2 separate regions of the Homo sapiens genome follow, and region 2 is reported to be linked to region 1. The links are microRNA targets in miRTarBase. Many come from high-throughput screens and were not tested one by one. Region 1 holds a microRNA gene; the other region holds the end of a gene's coding sequence.
What was found. Region 1 holds the annotated microRNA hsa-miR-190a-5p (UGAUAUGUUUGAUAUAUUAGGU, at 1,137-1,158, opposite strand). A microRNA usually pairs through its seed, bases 2 to 8, with sites in the 3' UTR of a target mRNA and lowers its output. Matches are read on the target gene's strand: a 7mer-m8 pairs with bases 2 to 8, a 7mer-A1 pairs with bases 2 to 7 and ends in A, and an 8mer does both.

Region 1 (4,064 bases):
AGAAGGATTCCAGAGACAGGATCCATTATGTAACTCCAGAAGCCAGGACTCCAACATTACAGGACCCTCTCCTGTGTCATCACCTCTCTGATGTTGCTGTTGGTGACCCTGTCACTATGCATTCACCTGTAAGCAATGTGGCAATGACTTCTAGACACAGTAAGGGGAAGCTTTCATGACTACCTGTTTAAACCATTTGCTTACACCTTTTCTCCTCCAAAACATTGAGAACAGTAGTTCTCTTTCCAGAAAGCAGTGCTCACAAAGTATTTTGTTTGTTGAGAGAACTCAGAATGAACTCACACATACTTCACAGGCTTTTCTATAAGGAAGAGGTCAAAACCAACCAAAGAAGGCTGTTATGTACCAGAAAAAATGTTTTCTATATCATAATCCCAAACTTCCTGCCACAGTCAATTAGGCTATGATATTACTTTCCGATTGTTGGCTTATTCTAAATATTACCAACCTCCACTGACAAGTTAACCTATAACAGGAAATTCAAGAGTTCAGTCAACATTATATTACCTTCATGAGATATATTTAGTCCTATATCCAAGGTTTGTACAAAGCTCACTGACTCAGTATCCATGCAGCTGGTATGGAGGATTTGCTTTATACATTCTGTTACTGTGAGTGGAAAGGGAAGTCATAGAAAACTGATCTGTGCTCCTTGAATTTTTGCTGAAACCCTGACATGAACTTCTAAATTGAAGATCAGGATAAAAATGAACCAAAATGAAACATGAATCTAGATGTGTTTGAGGCTATAATCCTGACCTTTATTCTGTGTCACAGACATGGGTTGGAACCGTTTTTTCCACCAAGCATATTGAATTCCTTAAGGATTCATCACTGCACAAAACTAAGCCACACAGAATACCCCAGGCTCTTATGAAACATCAACACTTATTGTTTCTATAATAAGCAAGTAATCCAGTAATACTGATACAGGTCTCAAATGCTATAAGAAGAAATGGAAGATAACATGAATTGTAATGAGTGCTCCATCTTCTAAATCTACTTGTGATTTTAACGTGTTCTTTCCTGTTGCCTTATAAACTTTATTAGGAACCCCCGGAGACAGGGCAAGACACTGTAGGAATATGTTTGATATATAGTTGGATTAAATAACAACCTAATATATCAAACATATCACACAGAGGCCTGCAGAAAAGGCATCCAGGTTTGACTGAGCTCGAGACTAGGCACAGTATTGAAGGTTACGGCTGCAGGGGGTGGTCACTTTTGCAGCAACTCCGATAACTGTCTTTGGAGCACAAGTCTGCCTGCAGATGTGGAAACGGCGCCATTAACAATACTGTCAGCACATGCACCAGCGCTCACTGACATTCTCATCTCCCCAGGTGAACAGCAGATTCAACGGTGCATGTCTGGGAGATCCCAGGCAAAAAGTGATGCTTAAGTTTTAAGAGCCTGAGGTGGAAATGTACCAGAATCATCATCAAAGACCATGAGCCATTCTCCTTTAAAAACAGGCAACCTGAGACGGTGGTGAGCAGAGCATTTTAGACAAAATTACTGTCTCTCCCCAAACTCTTCCTGAAAGCAGTGTGAATACTCCCCAGAAGGAACACACATCCATTTTATACTGAAGGCATGTGTGTGTACCAGGGTAGGGTTATAGGGATGTAATAAGCAATTGTTTACTGACAGTACCCTGAGGATTTTTTTAAGGTTTTGGGAGAGAATGGAGAGAAGTGATTCAACTCAAAAGACTGGCTGATTTTGGTGCAGATTGTTGTTATTGTTTTTTAATTGGGGAAATAAATTCCTTTATAAAGGCAAGGAAGATATTTCATGCAAAAGTTATTGCAATGTGCCCTATTAGGCACAAAAACTATGGTTTGGGTTGCAGGTTTTCCAAAACAGTTTCATAGATAATATCCACCTCTGGCCATCAGGCAGAGAAAGACTTCAGACCATTGTGAAGCATTCTAGAAGTACCCATCACCCTTCCTAATACGATGGGAGTGAGCTAAGGTAGGAACCCTCAAACAAAGGATTCACATCATCAGTTATGTTAACCTTGACCTTGGCCGAAGGACTCCTTGGCTTTCCTGTAAAAACCCTCAATGTAAACACAAAGGCTATATGATCCTAGAGTACTGTAGGGAGTCCTCACAGGCCTACTTCAGCAGTCATTAATTTTTAAGGTGCTGTTATTTTTTAAACCTTTGTTTTATAAAATGTTAAAACACAGACCCTTCCATCATCCCAATTCCATCATCATTCTTGTACATTCCCTACTTATTTTCTTCATCTGTGAGTTTTTAGAGTTGTAATCATAATAAGTACATAATTCTGCATCCTTTCTGTTATACCATGAGCATTTTCTTCGTGCTACACAGTCCTAGCAACCATTATTTTTCATAGCTGCATAATATTATAGCTGCATAATATTCCTTCGAGGAGTAGCTCTAAGGGCACACATAAACTACAAATGGCCTTTGTGGGACTAGACAAGCCTTCTCTGACAATGGGGTGGGAAACAGGGGCTGGTATGGACTGAAACTGCCACCCAGGGCCATACATAGCCCTCCCAGCTGAGTGACAGTGGTCGGACCCTGGCAAGGTAATTCGCCTCTTGGTGCTTCTGATTCTAATGGACTTTTTCCAAGGATCAGATGAGTGACTCCCATAAAGTACCCAGAAGACTGCCTGGCACAGGCTTGGCAGCTGAACAACGCGAGCTTCCTGGTTTTCTTTCTTCAGGGGCCAGTGGAATAATTTTTATTTCAGGCATTTCCTAGGGAGTAAGTCCCAGACACACATTTTCAGTGATGATGGTGATAATAATGGTGATATAGTTACTATCTACCAAGTCTCACTGTATGTCAGGCAGTGTTCTTATACTATCTTATTTAATTATTATAACAATAATCCTATGGGGTAGGAACTTTAATAATTTTGTTTTCCCATCTGGAGTCGTGAAGTGAACGACCAGACACGGGGAAACCAGGACTCAGACAAGAGCTCAGAAGGACCCTGCGGAAGGACAAAGGGAAAGACATTGAAACAGGAGCTCTTAGAATATGGTGAAGTGTTAATGTTAAATTAGCACCAGGCTAATTCTCCAGGAGAACGAATGTGTCAACTGACATGGCTTCGGCATTAGCGGACAGAGCCCTCCCCAAGAAAGGCCATCGTGATAAATCAGACAAGGAAATGGAAAAACATCATGCACCAAACCTCTAAATCTTAGTTAATGGTTGACTCTTAAGTTTAAAGTACACTTTTCATTCACGATTAACTTGACTGACAAAGCAGAAACAAAGGCGTAACCAGAAAATGGAGTTGTCCCAACACCCACACTTGGCTCTTACTCTGACAATATCAGGCAACCCAAGACTCCCAGGTAGAGTCCAGCAGAGAGAGCCCTGGTAAACCCCACAATCAGAAGCCCAAATCCTTAAGTTACATCTTGATGAGAAAACGTTTAAGTGCCTTTACCAAGTCCAGAGCGACTATTAGGAGGTTGGTTCTAAGCACTCGAAGGTTTTAATAATGTTCCCAAGCTGAACAGACTCAGTCTGTGTTTATTTCATACACTACACTGGCCCAGGCACTGCTTTTGAGTGGTCTGCTCTGTTTCAGGGCCCAGACTCCATCCCTTGGTCTTACAAAAATAGGTAAATTTTTAGGTATACCTAAATTGGTGGAATCCAGCCCTTTTTTGAGGGGAAAAGCCAAATATTATTTCCTAGTATATCTGGGTCCTTGGAAATAGATGAGTTACATGCACCACCAGGGACTTACTTGAATAGGAAGAAAAACAGGCCGCCTCTGGTTCTACCATTTTCCTGCTGAAGACAGCTATGGAAGGTGGGGTAGGAGGTATTAGCTTAACAGGATTGGGGCTTTGCCCCTGGAGACAGCACTAGCTTGTCATCCTTTTATTTAGAAAGTGTCCTTCCTCCTGCCTAATCTAAAAGTATCTCTTTCCTTTAAATGGCTATTTCTCTTCACATATACCTATAATCTTAAGTTTTAAACATTTATCTACATGACAAACACAGAAGGAAAAAACATACCAGCTACCC
Region 2 (4,062 bases), not on the chromosome of region 1:
CTCCCAGCAAAACTATATGATTCTGGTTATCCATCTTAATATTTCTGCATGTCAATTTCCCATGGAAAATCAGGCTCATCACAGGAACCAGCTGTCATCACTTCTACTGTCTTACAAAGCGGAAACACAGCTTCTCGGCTATACTTGACAGTGGTATAGGAGTTTGCTATCATGTGTTTACGAAAATACAGTGATAAGAAACTTAAACACTTTGTTTCTTCTGGGAAAGTGAAGGAAGGATAAAGAGTGAAGCCCATTTCCACCCAAAGTCTAAGCTTACCAGCAGGTGGTGCTGTGACAAAAGCAATCAAGAGAAACCAAGGCAGGCAGGTGGGGTTTCTGGGTCCCAGAGATCGGCTCTGCTACCTCTCATCAAAGCCAGTGCTCGGGAGCAGGAGCGAAGGGCAGGAAGCTTGAGGGCAGCACAGGGCGGGCAGCATGCGCTGGATCCAACACCAAACAGTTTCTAGGGTCCTCGATCAGGGGTTCTTCTCCTAGCAAGGCTCACCACAGCTCTCCGCTTCCCGTTTCATTTCTTCCTTTCTCTCCCCTCAAAGCCCTTTCCCAATTATCTGGATTTCCAGCAGGAAGCAGGGAATAGAGCAGGCGGGAATGCCCTTCTCCCTAATACTTACCCTGCAGACACTGTGGCTTCAGGGATCTTCAAATATTAAGCACTTTAATATTCAGAAAGCACTTTCAGTTGTATAAGCAGCTCTACATATACTATTAGATGCTATCTGGATAAACAGAAATGCAAAGAAACTCCTCAGAAATAACTGAGGCAGCTCCTATGCAACCGCATGGAGACCTATCAGCTAAGTCTATGCCACTTTGGTCACTCAACATGTGCTTGACTGAATTACCTTTTCATCTAAATGCCCTACTTACCCCAAGCCTCCAAAGGGCAGTCTCACTCCAAGGTGCCTTACATGTAGTATGTGCACAATGGGACCGAAAAGAGACAATAAACCCAGCAGCAAGCACAAATAAACTGGAGGACTCAGGAAAAAAGCAATTCCAAGTCTCATACCCCTTTCTCCTGCAGCAGACACAGAAGTTAGGAAATGAGGTGTCCCTGCATCAGAGCTTGTGGGGCCCAGTGGCTGCCCCTGGCACAGAGTTGCTGTGGGGCCCATTTTAGAATCTGGAAGCGATTGCTGCCTCCGTGGACCACGCTCAGCCAGTTCTGACCACTCTGGAAGTGAGCTGCGGTGGAAGAGATCCACATACAAGGCCGGGGTGTGCTCCACCCCCGGGGACAGGTGAACCCTGCCCAGAGGGGGTTTAAGAACTGAGGAAGTCAGAGAAGCAGCCCAGACCTGCAGGAACTAAGGCGTCGGTGTGAGAGCTTGGAGTTGTCCACATCTGCTTCAACCCAGTGGGGCAGCCCGAGGGACAAGGTAAGGGGCTGGGAAGTGGAACCGGGGCAGGGGTCCCAAGGTGGTTTAGCTTCCAGTCTCAGCCAGAGCGCTCCGCCTGTACTGGGGAGTCAGCTTCCTTGGTCCCTGGGTCTCTCACTGGGCCGAGATGAGGCAATTCTCTTCCATGGCTTTAGTGGTTTCCAAAGAGCACTGTGTGCAAGTAGCCTGATGTGGAAATGAAGTACGGCCATTACGAAAACAAAGTCCACCCAGCGGCCTCCTAGAGGGGGACACAGAGCCCACCACCAAGTCTACTAGTTAAGAAATAAGAACTGCCCTGTCACTGAATTAGCCAGGTCCCACCCAAGGGCAGACCTAAAGAAGGAAGCCAGGTCTACATAGGAAGGTGGTCCATGTGAGATGAAGACCAACAGTATCTTCCACACAAGGTTCACACGTGTAGGGTGGGGGCGAGGTGAAGGCGGAGGTCCCTGTCTGTAAATGCAGTTGACTAGTAGCTGGGAATACTGGCTTTCTTAAGTACACACCGCTGCACCTACACGATTCCTGCTGGTGGTGGAAGGCAAGCCAACCAGCTTGATTGACCCTGTCCAAGTAAGAGGCAGGTTAACCTGCTTATGTGAGCTACAGGCCCCCCAGGAAAACTGAAAACTTCGCTTCGTGAGAGTAAAGTTGTCCAGGGATCTCCCCTATCTATGCAACCTCTGTCTATCCCCCTTCTCACATCTTCCCTAAGAAGTACCCAAACATCTTACCCTAAGTCATAAGAAGAAATAGAAAAGCTGTAAGATCAGGCCTGGCACAGTGGCTCACACCTGTAATCCTAGCACTTTGGGAGGCTGAGGTGGGCAGATCACTTGAGGTTAGGAGTATGAGACCAGCCTGGCCAACATGGTGAAACCCCATCTTTACTAAAAATACAAAAATTGGCTGGGCATGGTGGCGGGTGCCTGTAATGCCAGCTATTCAGAGGCTGAGGCAGGAGAATCACTTGAACCCGGGAGGCGGAGGTTGCAGTGGGCAGAGAACACACCACTGCACTCCAGCCTGGGAGACAGAGCGAGACTCCATTTCAAAAAAAAAAAAAAAAGAAAAGAAAAGAAAAGAAAAGCTGTAAGATCAGCTAATTATACTGCTTACCATTTGGTTAATTTCACATTTCATTCAATGTAGGTTAACTTACTGGATGTTTTTCTCTTAAAAAAAAAATCAGAAATATCTGATAACCCCAATATTCCATCCATTCTTTCTAAACGCAAGCTAGTGTGACTGTCTCCAAGAAACATCTGGCTGCTGAGACAAAAGCAGATACTTGTAAATACTTGTAAATTTCATATTTATTGTAACAAAAATTATGACATGTCCATTTGTGCATTCTGCTTGAGTATAACTCTGGGTATGTAAATGGCCTAATGGGGCACTATACAACCATGCTGATTGTGGCAGCAGTAAGGAACACAGTTAAAAGTGTCTGTCAAAGTGGGAAGGCTGGGACAGGGGAGGAAAATGGGTTCAGGGCCCTTGGGTGCAGGTTCTTGTCCAGTGGCCTAAGATCCATTTCCTCCGGACAGAAACACTGCAGCTGCTCAGCCTCCTCATTCAGTGAAGTGAGGGTGAGTTGTGAGGCAGGCAGGCTCCTCAGAGGGGAGGGGGAGGGGAAACGTCAGTTACTTGGGCTGTGTCCTTACGCCAAGACTACAAAACATCGTAAGCCTCACTATACAACACTGAGCTATTTACAATGGAAATTCTCAATCAGCTGTTCTCTCAGAGAAAATTAGTGAATCCCAGTGACTTAAGTCACCTGACAGAGTAAAGCAACTCCTAGGAGTTAGTCTCCATATTCTACAAATGTCTATTATTTTCAAGACAAAAACAAAACAAAACAAAACAAAACAAAACAAAAGCCTTTTCCCCCCAAAGAAATACAGAATTACAATATTATTAAATCATTTAGCAACGGCAGCCTGCCCTGCCTTCCAAACAAACAACAAAAAGCCATTTTAAAAAATATTACATTATCATTAACTGTTTCTCTGTAATATATTAAACCTTTTGTTCTTTGTCTTTACATATCTGATATGTTAGGGGGAGAAGTTAACAAATGTAAATCATATTGGTAAAGCATCACTAGAAGAAAGTGGTGATTACTTAAAAAAATAACCCAAAGAAAGAGAACCTACAGATTAGCTGCGATGACAGGTTGGGAACAGTGTCTGGGGGAAGGATGTGGAGTAAAACCCCTGGTTTAATGTGAGCCTGGGAGACTCTTGCAACTCAGTCTTTTGTGGTTAGTTTATTTGTTAAACAGCTCGGCTGGGTCATAGTGGCGTGTCGTAATAATCTGGCAGCTGGTCCAGCTGGTAGTGCCGCGGCAGCTGCGGCTGGAGCTGAGGGGGTGGTGGCGGCTGCTGCTGCTGCTGTTGCTCCTGGTGATGCTTCATGATTTCTTTGACCTCCTCTTCCAGCTCCGGGGGTATGATAAACTGATCATCAGGATCCGGCTGAGCCGGGGCAGCAAAATAGCCTCCAGGCTTTCGAAGAGGTGCGTCTGTAGCCACCTCTATCACATTGTGGCTCCTTTCCTGGGGCGCAACAGAGCCATTGGCCCTCCGGCGCCCAATGGTCCCAACGGCAGAGAAGTCTGCCTTCCTGGGCAGACCTGGCTCATCCTCGT

Region 2: miRTarBase lists PHLPP1 as a target of hsa-miR-190a-5p. Seed matches in the 3' UTR shown: 8mer at 3,463-3,470.

What each region holds. Positions count from the first base shown.
Region 1 is chr15:62,821,065-62,825,128 of GRCh38, reverse strand. MIR190A (microRNA 190a) reads right to left here and starts at 1,172; the gene lies at 1,088-1,172. The region is part of intron 54 of TLN2 (talin 2); the gene reads right to left.
Region 2 is chr18:62,979,076-62,983,137 of GRCh38, reverse strand. PHLPP1 (PH domain and leucine rich repeat protein phosphatase 1) reads right to left here. Exons shown (of 17, transcript NM_194449.4): 17 at 2,705-4,062. The coding sequence ends at 3,707. Among named protein-coding and RNA genes, the nearest start is that of PHLPP1, 270 kb to the right of the region's middle.